Homo sapiens: one gene and its partners. The protein of the gene in region 2 interacts with the protein of the main gene of each other region in a biochemical or structural test. Each region holds a gene or a part of one and is shown on either strand. Other genes may lie near its edges.

Region 1 (3,500 bases), on a different chromosome or scaffold from region 2:
ACTAACTAAGGATGGAGTAACTCTTGTAAAATATATAGATGAAAATGTTTAATTCCGATTACCATATAGGTCAATTTAGAATTTTAAAAGTTGGAGTTTAGTGTTAATTATGTGTTTTTGACAGCTTTGACTTTAAAAGCATTTAAAAGAAAGGGGAGTCTTTAAGCATTTGTTAGGATGCTAGCATTCTAAGGAACCCCTGTTGAAAACAGACATAAGAAATTGTAGTCCTTGCTCTCAAAAGCTTATCCTTTAGTTGTAGAGGGAGGCTATGGGGAAAAAAAAATTAAAACAATAGCGTGATGACTGCAAGATTGTAAAATACAAATTGAATCATTTGTTCAGAGTGGCAAAGAGTAAAGGGGTGAGACTGATGGTTGGGAGAGGAAAGACTTCCTGCGGACAAGGTGTATTAGGACTGATGTTAAAGGAGGTGGTAACTTGAACTGGTAGAAAAGCATGAAAGGTCTAGGTGGAAGGAGTGTACCAAGGAACAATGATGGTGAGTTTTGCATGAGAGACAATAATCAAGTTGACAAATCTGAATTAAAGGGGCCTAAATAAGAACATAAGAACAGATGGAATTTGAGAAATAAGAGAAAGTTAGCTGATGGAGGGCAGAGGGGTTCTGTACAAGTTTGATTGAGATTCAGAAGAGATCTGGATTTATTGTTGGTTGCTGAATAAGACGTAAGATGATTTTTGCAGTTGAATTAGTGAATTATAGTAGAGAGATGCTAGAGCCTTTTTAGGGAGCTAGTAGGGTATGTTGTGAATCATGAGGGAATAAAGTAAAATGTGAAAGTGGGGTGAAAGGAACAGGTTTGAGAGACAGTGTGAATGAAGAACTGGCAGAACTTCATACTGGACTGAAGTGGAATATTTGTGAAGGAGTCAAGAGTTAAAAATAAATTCTGATGTTACTGGCCTGGAAGACTTGACTGCTAAGTTATATTGTTAATTGTAATGGGAAAATTGAGAAAGTGCTGAGGTGAGAGGGTAGGTGAGTTCACTTTCTTAAAATTTAATATACAATAAGTTCCCTTGAAATTCAGACAGCAGTTAGTTACTGGCAATGATATTTGACTTCCTAGTCTATTAATTGCACAGTTTCTAATTTTTCTACACCTAAAGATGTTGGATTTATATTCGGGAGCAGTAAACTAAGGGCTTTTATTTAAATGCTTCTCATCAAAGTCCTAATTTTTTTTTTTTTTATATACAGCTTCAAAAGCCTCACACTTGAAACCTGGTTATAATAGTTTCATGATGGCTTATTTCAGATCAATGAAAATACTTTTGGGACTAAACTGTGACTGTAACATTTTAGATATGTAGCCATTAATCTTTGATATATGCTTAAAACTTGTTTTTTATAAATAATGATTATTACTATTATTTTAAATGCAAAATTTATCTAAGAATAAAGTATTGAGAGCCTTCACTTTGTGAAGACTCCAGAAGAAATTAAAAGTTGATTTTATAACAAGTATTTTTTGCCCTTTTTGTTGAGTTTAGGCATTAATCCCAAATTTAAATCAGTATATTTGAAATACTACTTTTTACTTGCTATAGTGAAACCAATGTTTCATTTTTGTTCACTTCCAAGTTTACATGTAATTAAATAAATGTTTATAAAGTTTTTCTTTAGAATCACATGATATTTTACTCCATAGGGAAAGTAAGGGACTGTTTGTGGCACTTTTGGTTAAAATATTAGTAATCCTTTTGGTATATACAATTGGAGAAAATTTAGCTAGTTGTTTAGGTTTAATACTTAAATATAAGATTTAGAAATATGAAAATAAGTCTGTATCACTTAAGTTGTTTCCTCATATAAAACTTTTTTAGATCAAAATTTCTATTAGCAAAGAGAGAATAATAGTAGCTGCATATTATTCTGCAGTATTACGTCGTATGGTGATTAAAGCCAAAGAGTAGGTAGCAACTTAGAGTTTCCGTATTCCCCTGGGAAGTTTAATCTCTTTATGACATCTAAAAATTAGGTTATTAGAGTTTAGTCCATTTCTTGATAATCCTGTGTTAATGTGGAAAAGAGTTCATGTGTGAGACTGAAAACCAGAACTTTATTTTCAGTCATTTCCCAACCCGACTTCCCCAGAGTTGTTAAAACGTTTAAGATATTTAAGAATTGCATGCTTTCTTGTTGCATGCACCTGTAGAATGCTAATTGTGAAGTGACAGTAAGTCACAGGCAAAAGGAAAAACTTCAAGGGAACCCAGTGATTCACAAATCACCTTATGGCTGATTGGGAACTGCATTTAGAAAATGAGGTGACATCTTCTCATTTCACTGGCAAAGTTCAGCTGAAAATCAGTACTTGCACGCTTTACTGTGTAGCCCTTATATTAGAATTGAGTTGCAGGTGTGAGATAATATTTTGGAGAAACAGCAAGGCTGGGAAAGTCAGAGATTTTATTCCAGCAGCAGAGTCTAAAGAGTGGGAGAGCTCTATTTGTGTGTGCACTTTATGCATAGAGAAGGCTGTGAAACATGCATATGTTGACCCTATTGTCACAGTTCCATACTTTTAAATAAGACCCATGAAGTTGAGACAGGGTTGGAGATGACAGACAGGATGTGAGATTGTGGTGCTTCTTGTGATGCTCCACCCTATAATGGAGAATGGAGGGGCAGAACGCTTGTGTGGGTGAGACAAGAGTGTGTGTTGGTACTAACAGGACCAACCGGGTTCCCCGGATATTGTTCTTCTAAGAACATAATCACCATAAGTAAATTAATTTGTTGGAATGTTTATCATTTTCTAGCTGATTTTTTGTGTGTGTGTGTGGGGTGGTGGTGGTGGAAGGGGAGTTTTCCCCGATTTCAAGAATAAAAGCATTTTCATTGTTCAGAAGAAGAGCATTTTCATTAAAGCGGAGGTTGCACTCTTGGCATTTTATCTTGAGTTATACAAATCATCCTTGGTTATACAAATCAAATTGCTTTTGAAATTTGTTGAGTGTAATGTATAAATGTATATTTATATAAAAACCTATGTGAATAGAACAGCAAGGAAAAACTGAGTAGAGTTAAAGAAGTTTGTTTTCCCTGAGATTTTCTGCCTTTAAATTTATATAAAAAAGGAATATTCCATTTTACGTTATTGAGTTTTCTATTTTTTTAAATGAGCTAATACTCAGTACATAATGGACATTTTTAGTAAATTATTCCAATATACTTGTGTCTGTAATGCATTTGATGTGGTATAAGATTTAGAAACACAATTTAGTTCGGCTGGCACGGTGGCTCACGCCTGTAATCCCAGCACTTTGGGAGGCCGAGGCGGGTGGATCACGAGGTCAGGAGATCAAGACCATCCTGGCCAACGTGGGGAAACCCCGTCTCTACTAAAAATACAAAAATTAGCGGGGGCGTGGTGGTGTGCGTCTGTAGTCCCAGCTACTCAGGAGGCTGAGGCAGGAGAATCGTTTGAACCCATGAGGCGGAGATTGCAGTGAGCTGAGATCGTGCCACT
Region 2 (3,500 bases):
TAGGCTGGGCGCGGTGGCTCATGCCTGTAATCCCAGCATTTCGGGAGGCCGAGGCGGGCGGATCATGAGGTCAGGAGATCGAGACCATCCTGGCTAACACAGTGAAACCCTGTCTCTACTAAAAATACAAAAAATTAGCCAGGCATGGTGGCACGTGCCTGTAGTCCCAGCAACTCAGGAGGCTGAGGCAGGAGAATCGCTTGAAACCGTCAGGCGGAGGTTGCAGTGAGCCGAGATTGCGTCACTGCACTCCATCCTGCGCAACAGAGCAAGACTCCATCTCAAAAAATAATAATAATAAATAAATAAATAGGCTGGGCATGGTGGCTCACGCCTGTAATCCCAGCACTTTGGGAGGCCGAGGCAGGCGGATCACCTGAGGTCAGGAGTTTGAGACCTGCCTGGCGAACATGGTGAAACCCCATCTCCACTAAAAATATAAAAATTGGGCATGGTGATGTGTGCCTGCAGTTCCAGCTACTCGGGAGGCAGAGGCAGGAGAATCACTTAAACCTGGGAGGTGGAGGTTGCAGTGAGCCAAGATCATGCCATTGCACTCCAGCCTGGGCAACAAGAGCGAAATTCCATCTCTAAATAAATAGATAAATAAATACAAAAATGAGCCAGGTATGTTGGTGCATGCCTGTACTCCCAGCTACTCGGGAGGCTGAGGCAGGAGAATTGCTTGAACCTGGGAGGTGGAGGTTGCAGTGAGCTGAGACAGCACCACTGCACTCCAGCCTGGGCGACAGAGCGAGACTCTGTCTCAAAAAATAACTTAAATAAATAAATAAGAAAGAACTTGCTCCTCCAACTGCCTGTTCCACACGGTCCCCCATTCAACCCATGCTGGCTGCTTCTCCTCCTGGTCTCAGCTCGTATGTTATCTCTTCAGAAAAGCCTAACCTAATGTGTCTTCTCCAGGCCATCTCTCCCTCGTCCTGTTTATTTCTTTCACAGCTCTCAGCCCAGGCTAACATTATCTTGCTCATCTGTTCATTTTCCTCTGTCTCCCACACCGGGCTATCAGCTCTGCGAGGGCAGGGACTTGGTTTTGTTCATGGCTAAATCCCCAGGGCCTAAAACAGTGTCTGTCTGTACTCACTAGGGGATTAATAACATTATTTTATTTTAATTGGTTTTCTTTTTGAGACACGGTCTTGCTCTGCCGCCCAGGCTGCAGTGCAGTGGTGCAATCATAGCTCACTGCAGCCTCGGCTTCCAAGGCAACCTCCCAGGCTCAGGTGATCCTCCCACTTCAGCCTCCTGAGCAGCTGGGACTACAGGTGCGCACCACCATGCCCGGCTAATTTTTAAAAATTTTGTGTAGAGATGGGGGTCTCACTATGTTACCCAGGCTAGTCCTGAACTCCTGGCCTCAAGCAGTCCTCCTGCCTCTGCCTCCCAAAGTGCCAGGATTACAGGTGTGAGTCACACAGCCCCCGGCGTGCTGAGTGTTTTCCAAGTGTCAAGCACTGCTAAGTACCTTAGGAGCATGACTTCGTTCAAATCCCTCCACAGTCCTGGAAGTCACACAGTGACACCTCTCCCCCACCCCCACTGAACAAGGAAGGCCAAGACCCCCTTCTGTAGGCACTTGGGTCCCTCAGCCTCCCCGCAAACCTGCCCTGTGATACTCACCCAATTCATCTGTGGAAGGAAGAGAAAGAGAAAGAGAAAGGTAAGGTCCAGAAAGTGGTCACAACTTTTCATCTTTTAAGACAGATTCCCCAACCCTGTCCCTCCTGTGACCCTTCCGTCTTCCTCCGTCCTGGGAAACCCTGGGCTCTGACTTGCTGGGGCACTAAACCCCAAACCTCATCTTCTCCTCTGGGCTACCATCCTTTCAACCTCTAATGTTGGGGTCCCAGCATCAGGGTATCCTCCAACTAAGCCAAATGCCTCCCGAAAAACATTTAGACCAGGGATTATGAAGTCTTTTTGGGAACCCATTAGAAAGGGGTCTTAGCACCAGGAAAAAGTGGATGCCCAAATTTCCAAACAAATTGGGGTGTGTTCCCTCCCTGAAGTCCACCCCAGGGTCCTGGAGGTCACTGGCTGGTGTTTAAAGATACAAAGAGGTGGCCAGGCCTGGTGGCTCACGCCTGTAATCCCAGCACTTTGGGAGGCTGAGGTGGGCAGATCACTTGAGGTCAGGAGTTCGAGACCAGCCTGGCCAACATGGCGAAACCCCGTCTCTACTAAAAATACAAAAATTAGCTGGGTATCGTGGTGGGCACCTGTAATCCCAGCTACTCGGGAGGCTGAGGCAGGAGAATCGCTTGAACTCAGGAGGCAGAGGTTGCAGTGAGCTGAGATTGCGTCACTGCACTCCAGCCTGGACAACAGAGCGAGACTGTCTCAAAAACAAACAACAACAACAACAAAAAGATGCAAAGAGGCTGATCTGAACCCAGGCAGCCTCTTGCTCTGTACCCCAGCCCTGTCCTCCCACAGTGACCACCCAAAATCCCAGATTCACCCCTGCTTCCTAAGTGAGGAGGTACAGTAATGCTGGGTCCTCAGGGAAGCCCCTTTTCACCTCCCCAGGAAAGCTCAGCCCTTCACAGAATCGTGGAGGAATCGAAACCGACCTCCCGTCATTCCATAGACAGGACAAGGGGAAGCCCAGAGGCCGCCAGTGAGCCTTAGAATCACACAGCAACGGAAGGCAGCTGCAGCCAGGTGTCCCACCCAGGGCTGCCTGCGCTGGTCTCTGGCTGGGGATTTATAGACGCGAACCTGTTCCGCTGCTAGATCTGTCCTCCTCTGTTCTCAGGGAGTGGCTCCTGGCAGCCAGACCTTTGCCCCTTGAAAGGTAGTTTTCCTGCACCCCTTATCTCATGGGATCTGTGAAGCCAGTAGGGTGCCAAGGTCCCCCCAATTTGGCAGATGGGGATACTGAGGCTGGCAGAGAGGAAGGGACACGCTCTAGGTCAGTGGCAGGGCCAACCTCAAGTCACTTGAACTGGGAAAATCCTTCTTAGGCATCTGTGCTGGATGAACCTGGGGACCCAAAGACAGAGTTAGACTTTGGACCCTCCAGAGGCTCCCGGGCTGTAGGGGGAGACTGAGTCCTGGGCGGCTGTGGCTGGAGCTCTGGGTTCACTGCCTCTGTTCAAATCCTGGCTCTGCAACTTGCTAGTTGTGGGGCCATAAGCCTATTACTTCACCTTTTTGTGCCTTGGCTTCTTCATCTGTAAAATGGGCACAATAATAATGCCTACCTTGTTGGGCTAAGATACTTTTATTTAATATTTTATTTTATTTTATTTTATTTATTTTTATTTTTTTGAGACGGAGTCTTGCTCTGTCACCCAGGCTAGGGTGCAGTGGCACAATCTTGGCTCACTGCAACCTCTGCCTCCTGGGTTCAAGTGATTCTCCTGTCTCAGCCTCCCGAGTAGCTGAGATTACAGGTGCACACCACCACACCCGGCTTTTTTTTTTTTTTTTTTTTTTTGTATTTTTAGCAGAGACGGGGTTTTACTATGTTAGTC
Region 3 (3,500 bases), on a different chromosome or scaffold from region 2:
GACAGAGTCTCTCTGTCATCCAGGCTGGAGTGCAGTGACGCGATCTTAGCTCACTAAAACCTTTCCCTTCAGGCTCAAGCAGTACAATCCTCCCACCTCAGCCTCCCGGGTAGCTGGGACCACAGATGCACACCACCATGTCTGGCTACTTTTTTATATTTTTGGTAGAGACAGGGTCTTGCCATATTGCTGAGCTGGTCTCAAACTCCTGAGCTCAAGCAGTCCTCCCACCTTGGCCTCTCAAAGTGCTGGGATTACAGGCATGAACCCACCATGTCTGGCCTTGTCTTATATTTTATTTTATATTTATTTATTTATTTCAAGATGGAGTTTTACTCTTGTCATCCAGGCTGGAGTACAATGGCGCAATCTCGGCTCACTGCAACCTCTGCCTCCCAGGTTCAAGCAATTCTCCTGTCTCAGCCTCCCAGGTAGCTGGGATTACAGGCGCCCGCCACCACGCCTGGCTAATTTTTAGTAGAGACGGGGTTTCACCATGTTGGCCAAGCTAGTTTTCAACTCCTGACCTCAGGTGATCCACCTGCCTCAGCCTCCCAAAATGCTGGTATTACAGGTGTGAGCCACCGTGCTTGGCCCTTGTCTTATATTTTAAAAAGATGACTTTGGGTGCCGTGTGGAGGGTAGACTGTAGGGACAAGGATGGAGGCTCATGCCTGTAATCCTAACACTTGAGAGGCTGAGGCGGGAGGATCACTTGAGCCCAGGAATTCAAGACCAGCCTGAGCAACATAGGGAGATCCTGTCTCCACAAAAAAAATAAACACTTAGCCAGGTGTGGTGGCACACACGTTAGTCCCAGCTACTTGGCAGGCTGAGGTGGGAGGATTGCTTGAACCCAGGAGTTTGAGGCTGCAGTGAGCCATGATCACACCACCGCACTCTAGCCTGGGCAACAAAGCAAGACCTTGTCTCAAAAAGAAATAGTCACTGGGCACGGCGTCTCACACCTGTAATCCAAGCACTTTGGGAGGCTGAGGTGGGAGGATTGCTTGAGCCTGGGATTTCAGGACCAGCCTGGGCAACGTAAGGAGATCTTGTCTCTCCAAAAACATTGAAAAATTAGCTAGGTGTGGTGGTGTGTGCCTATAGTCCCAGCTACTTGAGAGGCTGAGGTAGGAGGATCACTTGGGCCCAGGAGGTCAAGGCTGCAGTGAGCCGTGATTGCACCACTGCACTCCAGCCTGAGTGACAGCAATACCCTGTCTCAAAAAAATATACCATAGAGCTTGGGCTTTAGGGAAAAAAAAAAAAAAAAAAAAGTGGAGGTGATTTGATCAATTAGGAGCTCTGAAAGGACCCAAGTGAGAAATGACAGTGACTGGATCTGCGGTGGAGAGGGGCAGCATGGTTTCCCACATAAGATTCTCACATCTGTTCTTACCTGCTACCTACCCCTCTTGGAAATAGCAGTGTCCTGTAGTGGCCTGAGGCACATCAGTTATTCAGTCCCCATCCTCTTCCCTCTTGCCTACTTCAGGACCAGTTGCTCTTCTGTGATGACTGCGATCGTGGCTACCACATGTACTGTCTCACCCCGTCCATGTCTGAGCCCCCTGAAGGTAAGTTGCCCAGATCTTTTACTCAGAACAATTACTTTATTAGTTACTTGGAAAATACTGAGTTCTATGTTCTTTATGTTATCACTTACATATTCTTCCAAATTAGGGAGTAAAGCACCTTGCCTTGGCTCAGTTTAGAATGCCTTCCTAACATTTCAACTTAAAGGGTTTAGTGTTTGCACATTATCAGCTACATTTACAACAGAAAATCAACAGCCCAGAAGAAAGCAGATGCTGAGCCGAGATCAGGCACCCAGAAGGAATGATTTATTTTCTTCCAACCAGTCCAGAAAACTCAAGTGGTAGATTATCTGATGTGAAACTTCTGCAGTCAACTCTTGAAATTTGATAGATTTGAGCATTTATTTCCTATCCCTTCCCCTTCTGAACTGGGAAGGGACTTGACTTTGGAGCCTGAATGGGTCAGTCTGCTTCTCCGATAACTTACTGTAATAATGGTCCAAATTTATTAAAGCTATTCACTGAAACCAGTGGTGGCACCAAGAATTGGTTGCATCTCCACAAGTCCCCTTCCAGCTGGATTTCTGTACATAAACACCTCCTGTACAGAAATTGAGTAGCAGCTGGGCGCGGTGGCTCAAGCCTGTAATCCCAGCACTTTGGGAGGCCGAGGTGGGCGGATCACGAGGTCAGGACATGGAGACCATCCTGGCTAACACGGTGAAACCCCGTCTCTACTAAAAATACAAAAAAATTAGCCGGCTGTGGTGGCGGGCGCCTGTAGTCCCAGCTACTCAGGAGGCTGAGGCAGGAGAATGGCGTGAACCCGGGAAGCGGAGCTTGCAGTGAACCGAGATCGCACCACTGCACTCCAGCCTGGGCGACAGAGCGAGACTCCATCTCAAAGAAAAAAAAAAAAAAGCCAACAGAAATTCAGTAGCTTACTCAGAACACAAATGCCCAGGAGCTGTTACTGTGCACAAAGGATGTGGGCCAGCATTACAGGCAAGAGAAAGTGTTTCATTGTGTGATGTAAGCTGACTTGTAACATATCGGTCAAACTGCTGTCACCCCTCTAGAGAATGAGGCCCCTGACAATGTCTAAGAGTCCTTTAGCAGCTGTAGGGGAGTACTCAGCTTCTGTCAGGCCCAGTTTATGAATCTGCTTTGGGGAGAAGTCGCATGTTTATGTTTTGTTTTGTTTTGTTTTTTTAAACCATCAAACAGATGATCTATGTTACAGAATGGCTTTCCTATTAAAGTTCTGTGGGACATCGAGGTAGTGGAGAGCTGCAGGCCCGAGTGTCCTCACTGTAGTGTTAAGGCAGCTGAGGGGCAACCCCTAGAAGTATCAGATGTTCTAGGTCAGGGTCAGCAAGCTACAAGCTAAAACCTATGGACCACATCCAGCCACAGCCAGCTTAAATAGCTTGCAAGCTGTTTTGTTTTCTTTTCTTTTCTCTTTTTCTTTTTCTTTCTTTCTTTTTTTTTTTTTTTTTTGAGACAGTGTCTTGTTCTGTTGCCCATGTTGGAGTGGAGTGGCATGATCTCAGCTCACTGCAACCTCTGCTTCCCCGGGCTCAGGTAATCTGGTAATCCTCCCACCTCAGCCTCCTGAGTACCTGGGACTACAGGCATGCCACCACACCCGGCTAATTTTTGTATTTTTAGTAGAGACGGGGTTTTGCCATGGTGCCCAGGCTGGTCTCGAACTCCTGGGCTCAAGTGATCCACCCACCTCAGCTTCCCAAAGTGCTGGGATTACAGGTGTGAACCACTGCATCTAGCCTGAAGAAAATCCCCTTAAAAATATAAAAACTGGCTGTGCACTGTGGCTCGCATCTGTAATCCCAGCACTTTGGGATCTCTTGAGCCCAGGGGTTCAAGACCAGCCTGGGCAGCATGGCAAAACCCCATCTTTACTAAAAATAGAGAAATTAGCTGGGCGTGGTGCTGTGC
Region 4 (3,500 bases), on a different chromosome or scaffold from region 2:
GTCTGGGATGTGCTCGAGAGACACTGGGTGACAAGATGGGTGTCTGAGGCCCTGACAGGCAGGAGTCAGATTCCCCTTGTCCCTCTGACATCTCAGATCACACACCAGCTTCTCTGAGCCCTCCTGGTGGGGGCCAGGGCCCACCCACCCCCTTTTCCTCGGCTATATGTCACCCTGATGACACCAGAGAGAAGGGCTTGGCATTTGAGGAGCAGCGCTGAGAGCCGTGGCCTCGGCAGTTCTAACGAGGCCCCAGACAGTGAGTCCTCTCTATTTCGACCAGTCAGAGTCTGGGTGGTCACTGGTAGAAGGAGATCTCGCCGTCCAGGGTAATCGTTGTAATCCGCGCAGCCCAGAGCTTTCTTCACAGCCCATTGCCCTGATGAGGGTGGAAGGCCCATGGCCGGCAGCAGAGTGGGGGCAGGCTGGGGCGGATGGAGGAGGCCTGTTCCTGGGGAAGGCCGAGAGGGGTCCTCTGGCATAGCTCACTGCTGACCCCATTCAAAAGGCTTTTCTGAAACGATGTGGAGAAAGTGCTGGAAAGAGCAGAGACATGATGGGAAGTGGATGCCAGCTTGGGGGCTCAATGCTCCCCTCAGCGTTCTGGGGCCTTTGGAGTTCCCAGCAGCGAGGTTTATAAAATTGAGATCAAATGGGCATGATCTGAAGTTGAAGATCGGCTGATTCCTCTCCGGGGTCAGCCACATGAAAAACCAGGGCCTGCGTTCACAGGACCAACACTCAAAATGTCCCTTCTACGCTGCACAGTAACAGTCCAGGAAAATCCACCTTAATCCTCCAGCTGCAACTCGGGGGCACCCAGATCACCCCAGGTGACCGTCCTGGAGTCTCAGCTGCTCTCTGTTATGGCAACAGATGTCCTTTGAAAATGCCCGATTAACCCTTTGCACCCGAGAGTCTCATTTTAATTCCTGGACATGCGTCACCTGGGTGGTGCATTTGGCAGGCTCCCAGCCCGCTCCTGGTCAGGTCAGCAGACCCCAAAATGGGCAGGGCCTCTGCATCCTCACACTTCCCCTGCCTGGCCAGACCCTCCCTGCAGCCCTCCTCCAAGGGTGGGTTTCAGGCTCCACATGGGTTCCCAGCCCTTCTCTGAGGGGCCCAAGCTCCCAGCCAGCCGGAAGACAGAGGTGATGCTGTCCCTAAACACCCACCTGAAGGCACTTGGCCTGGCCTGGGCTCCTGGTCCCGAGGGTGCTGAACCTGGGGCTGAGGAAAGCCCACAGTCTCCAGGCTGCACTCAGCAGCTTCCCCAAAGGCCATCTGCAAACCCAAGGATGGTGCCAGGCTCTGAAGCTCCTCCACGCCCTCCTGAAGGAGGCAGGCCCTTGGGGTCACCAGACCTGTTCATGGACGAACACAGAATGGGGCAAGACCAGGAAACCCAAGCTGACGGGCACCCTCAAACCCTGCTACCAAGGACTCCTCCCCGCTCAGCCTCTGGGGCGCGAGGACAAGCGACGGTTCCCCAGGTATCCCAGGGCCCCTCGGTAGGCGCCCAGGAGCCCTTGGCCAAGAAGCCAGAGCAGGGTGGCCCCTCCGGGGGGGAACCGGGGCCAGACAGCAGGAGGGCACTCGCCCGACGGCACTTCACTAGCCGGAGGCATTGGGCCTCGGGGGGCGGTCCGGGAGGCAGGCAGCCACAGTGAGCTGGAGTGACGAGAAGCTCTTTCCCATTATGGGTTCATAATGGGGCCAGCAGGTGCCACGCTGGGCTGCTGCGCCACCGCCTCAGGGCCACTGTGGCCCCTGCACACCCCCTTGAGGAGTCCCCTGTGAGTGCCCTGAGTGGTGGGGCAGCCTGGCAGCACCCTGACAGCTGAGAACTCACAGGAGGCCACCGCCCCACAGGCCTTTCGCTCCCCCGTGGCTGTGGCCGGCCTTCAGGGCAGAACCGGTGCCGCAGGCCTCACCTCATCAAAGGCGGTCTTGGCCCTGCTGGTGGTGCCTCCTCCGTGTGCCAGCCCAAGCCTCGCCACAGGCCTGTGGGTGGGGACATTTTACAAATGAGGAAACTGAAGTCCAGAGACACAGCGAGTGCAGAGCTGGGGTCGGGACAGAGCTAGGGCTGGCTGTGGAGCCAGGCGCTTCCCTCCCACCCTGAAGGTTCCCTCCAACATGCTGCTGCGCACCTCTATCCAGGGGCAGGAGGCTGCCTCCCTCCCTCCTGAACCCCCTGCTCCCCCTGCCCTGATACCGGCAGCTGGCTTCCACAGGCAGCAGCTCTGCGAGGGGCTGGCAAGAACAGCCACAGTGAAATGCCTCACCCTTCTCCGGCCCACCCCACCCCAAAATGTCAGTCCATAGGTAAGGAAAGCTCTCTGAACATGTGGGGCACAGAGACCTGCCCCTGCAGGCATCTTGGAAAAATCGCGTTTTATGGAAATAAGACCATGCACTCGGCAACCTGCCACATGGAGCCTGGGTCCCCCGGGCTGAGGTGGGAGCAAGGTGGGAATTAGCTTGCAGCGTCCAGCTGCCCTTCTTTATTGCCTTGAAAGTTTTGTCACCGAAACCCTCGTGCCCACTTAATCCAGTGACAGAATCAGGGTAGTGTTGCGCCTGCTCCTCTGTTGAACCCCAGCATGCTCGGTGATTCGGGGGAGAAGTCCTGCTGGACTCGCCGCGGTCGGGACCAGAGAGAACCCATGCCCCAACAATCTGGAGCAGCCTCCTCCTCTCTAGTCCTTCTGAGCCTTGAGGCCGAAAGCTTATCTTCGTTGTTCCCGTCCCTTGCAGATGGCAGCCCTCCAGAGCCCCTTCTATGGAGATAAGATGAATCTCTTCTCCCTGTGCCAGAAGATCGAGCAGTGTGACTACCCCCCACTCCCCGGGGAGCACTACTCCGAGAAGGTGAGTTTGCAGGAGCCGGAGGCCTCGCCAGCCCCAGGAGGCCACCGAGGCTTATGAGGGCCGCTCCAAAACACCACAGCTGTGGGGCTGAGGTTAGGCTCACTTTACACGGTGCAGAAAGGGAGCTTTCTGGAAAAGTGACTTGGAGAGGGGAAAGTAGGTGATTGCACTGAAGAAGGGGTTTCACCACGCAGCTCCAGTGTGGGACCCCCAGGTAGGAACCAGTGGCACGTGGCCCTTGGCACATCTCCACCTGTTCAGCTCCCAACTTGGTGCTCCAGTGGGAGGCCCTCTGCTGCAGGTCCCCAGGACAGGGTCTGTGCCGTGCCAGACATGGGAACTGATACAGGGGCAGGATGTGGCAGGCCTGGCGTCCCCATACCACCAGTGGTGGCCACTCTGCTCCCATGACAGGAAACTACGGCAGGAGGACCGGTCAGTTTCCTCCTTATATAACAGACTTAACACCCTGGGCTTCTACTGTCAACATTTTACACTGGCTGCGGGAGCCGTGGACACAGCTCCCATGGGTCTGGCATGGGGCTGTACCAGTTACTAGGAATGTGTGAATATCTTATTCCTCGGCTCCGTCACCTTGAAGATGGGACTAATAATCTCCTTGGTGG

The links. The genes of interacting proteins can lie anywhere in the genome.
Region 1: of the proteins of RELB (region 2) and GSK3B, one has a biochemical effect on the other in vitro, tested with the Homo sapiens proteins (one study listed by BioGRID and IntAct).
Region 3: the proteins of RELB (region 2) and DPF2 form a complex in vitro, tested with the Homo sapiens proteins (one study listed by BioGRID).
Region 4: the proteins of RELB (region 2) and NEK6 form a complex in vitro, tested with the Homo sapiens proteins (one study listed by BioGRID).

Annotation. Positions count from the first base shown.
Region 1 is NC_000003.12:120,087,948-120,091,447, reverse strand, and holds part of GSK3B (glycogen synthase kinase-3 beta), read left to right. Parts: intron 1-3,500. UniProt on the Homo sapiens protein: Constitutively active protein kinase that acts as a negative regulator in the hormonal control of glucose homeostasis, Wnt signaling and regulation of transcription factors and microtubules, by phosphorylating and inactivating glycogen synthase (GYS1 or GYS2), EIF2B, CTNNB1/beta-catenin, APC, AXIN1, DPYSL2/CRMP2, JUN, NFATC1/NFATC, MAPT/TAU and MACF1.
Region 2 is NC_000019.10:45,007,964-45,011,463, reverse strand, and holds part of RELB (transcription factor RelB), read right to left. Parts: intron 3,007-3,500; exon of another isoform or gene 2,954-3,006; intron 1,651-2,953; coding exon 1,642-1,650; intron 1-1,641.
Region 3 is NC_000011.10:65,347,352-65,350,851, forward strand, and holds part of DPF2 (zinc finger protein ubi-d4), read left to right. Parts: intron 1-1,498; coding exon 1,499-1,580; intron 1,581-3,500. UniProt on the Homo sapiens protein: Plays an active role in transcriptional regulation by binding modified histones H3 and H4. Is a negative regulator of myeloid differentiation of hematopoietic progenitor cells. Might also have a role in the development and maturation of lymphoid cells.
Region 4 is NC_000009.12:124,344,949-124,348,448, forward strand, and holds part of NEK6 (serine/threonine-protein kinase Nek6), read left to right. Parts: exon of another isoform or gene 1-2,754; intron 2,755-2,760; coding exon 2,761-2,874; intron 2,875-3,500. UniProt on the Homo sapiens protein: Protein kinase which plays an important role in mitotic cell cycle progression. Required for chromosome segregation at metaphase-anaphase transition, robust mitotic spindle formation and cytokinesis.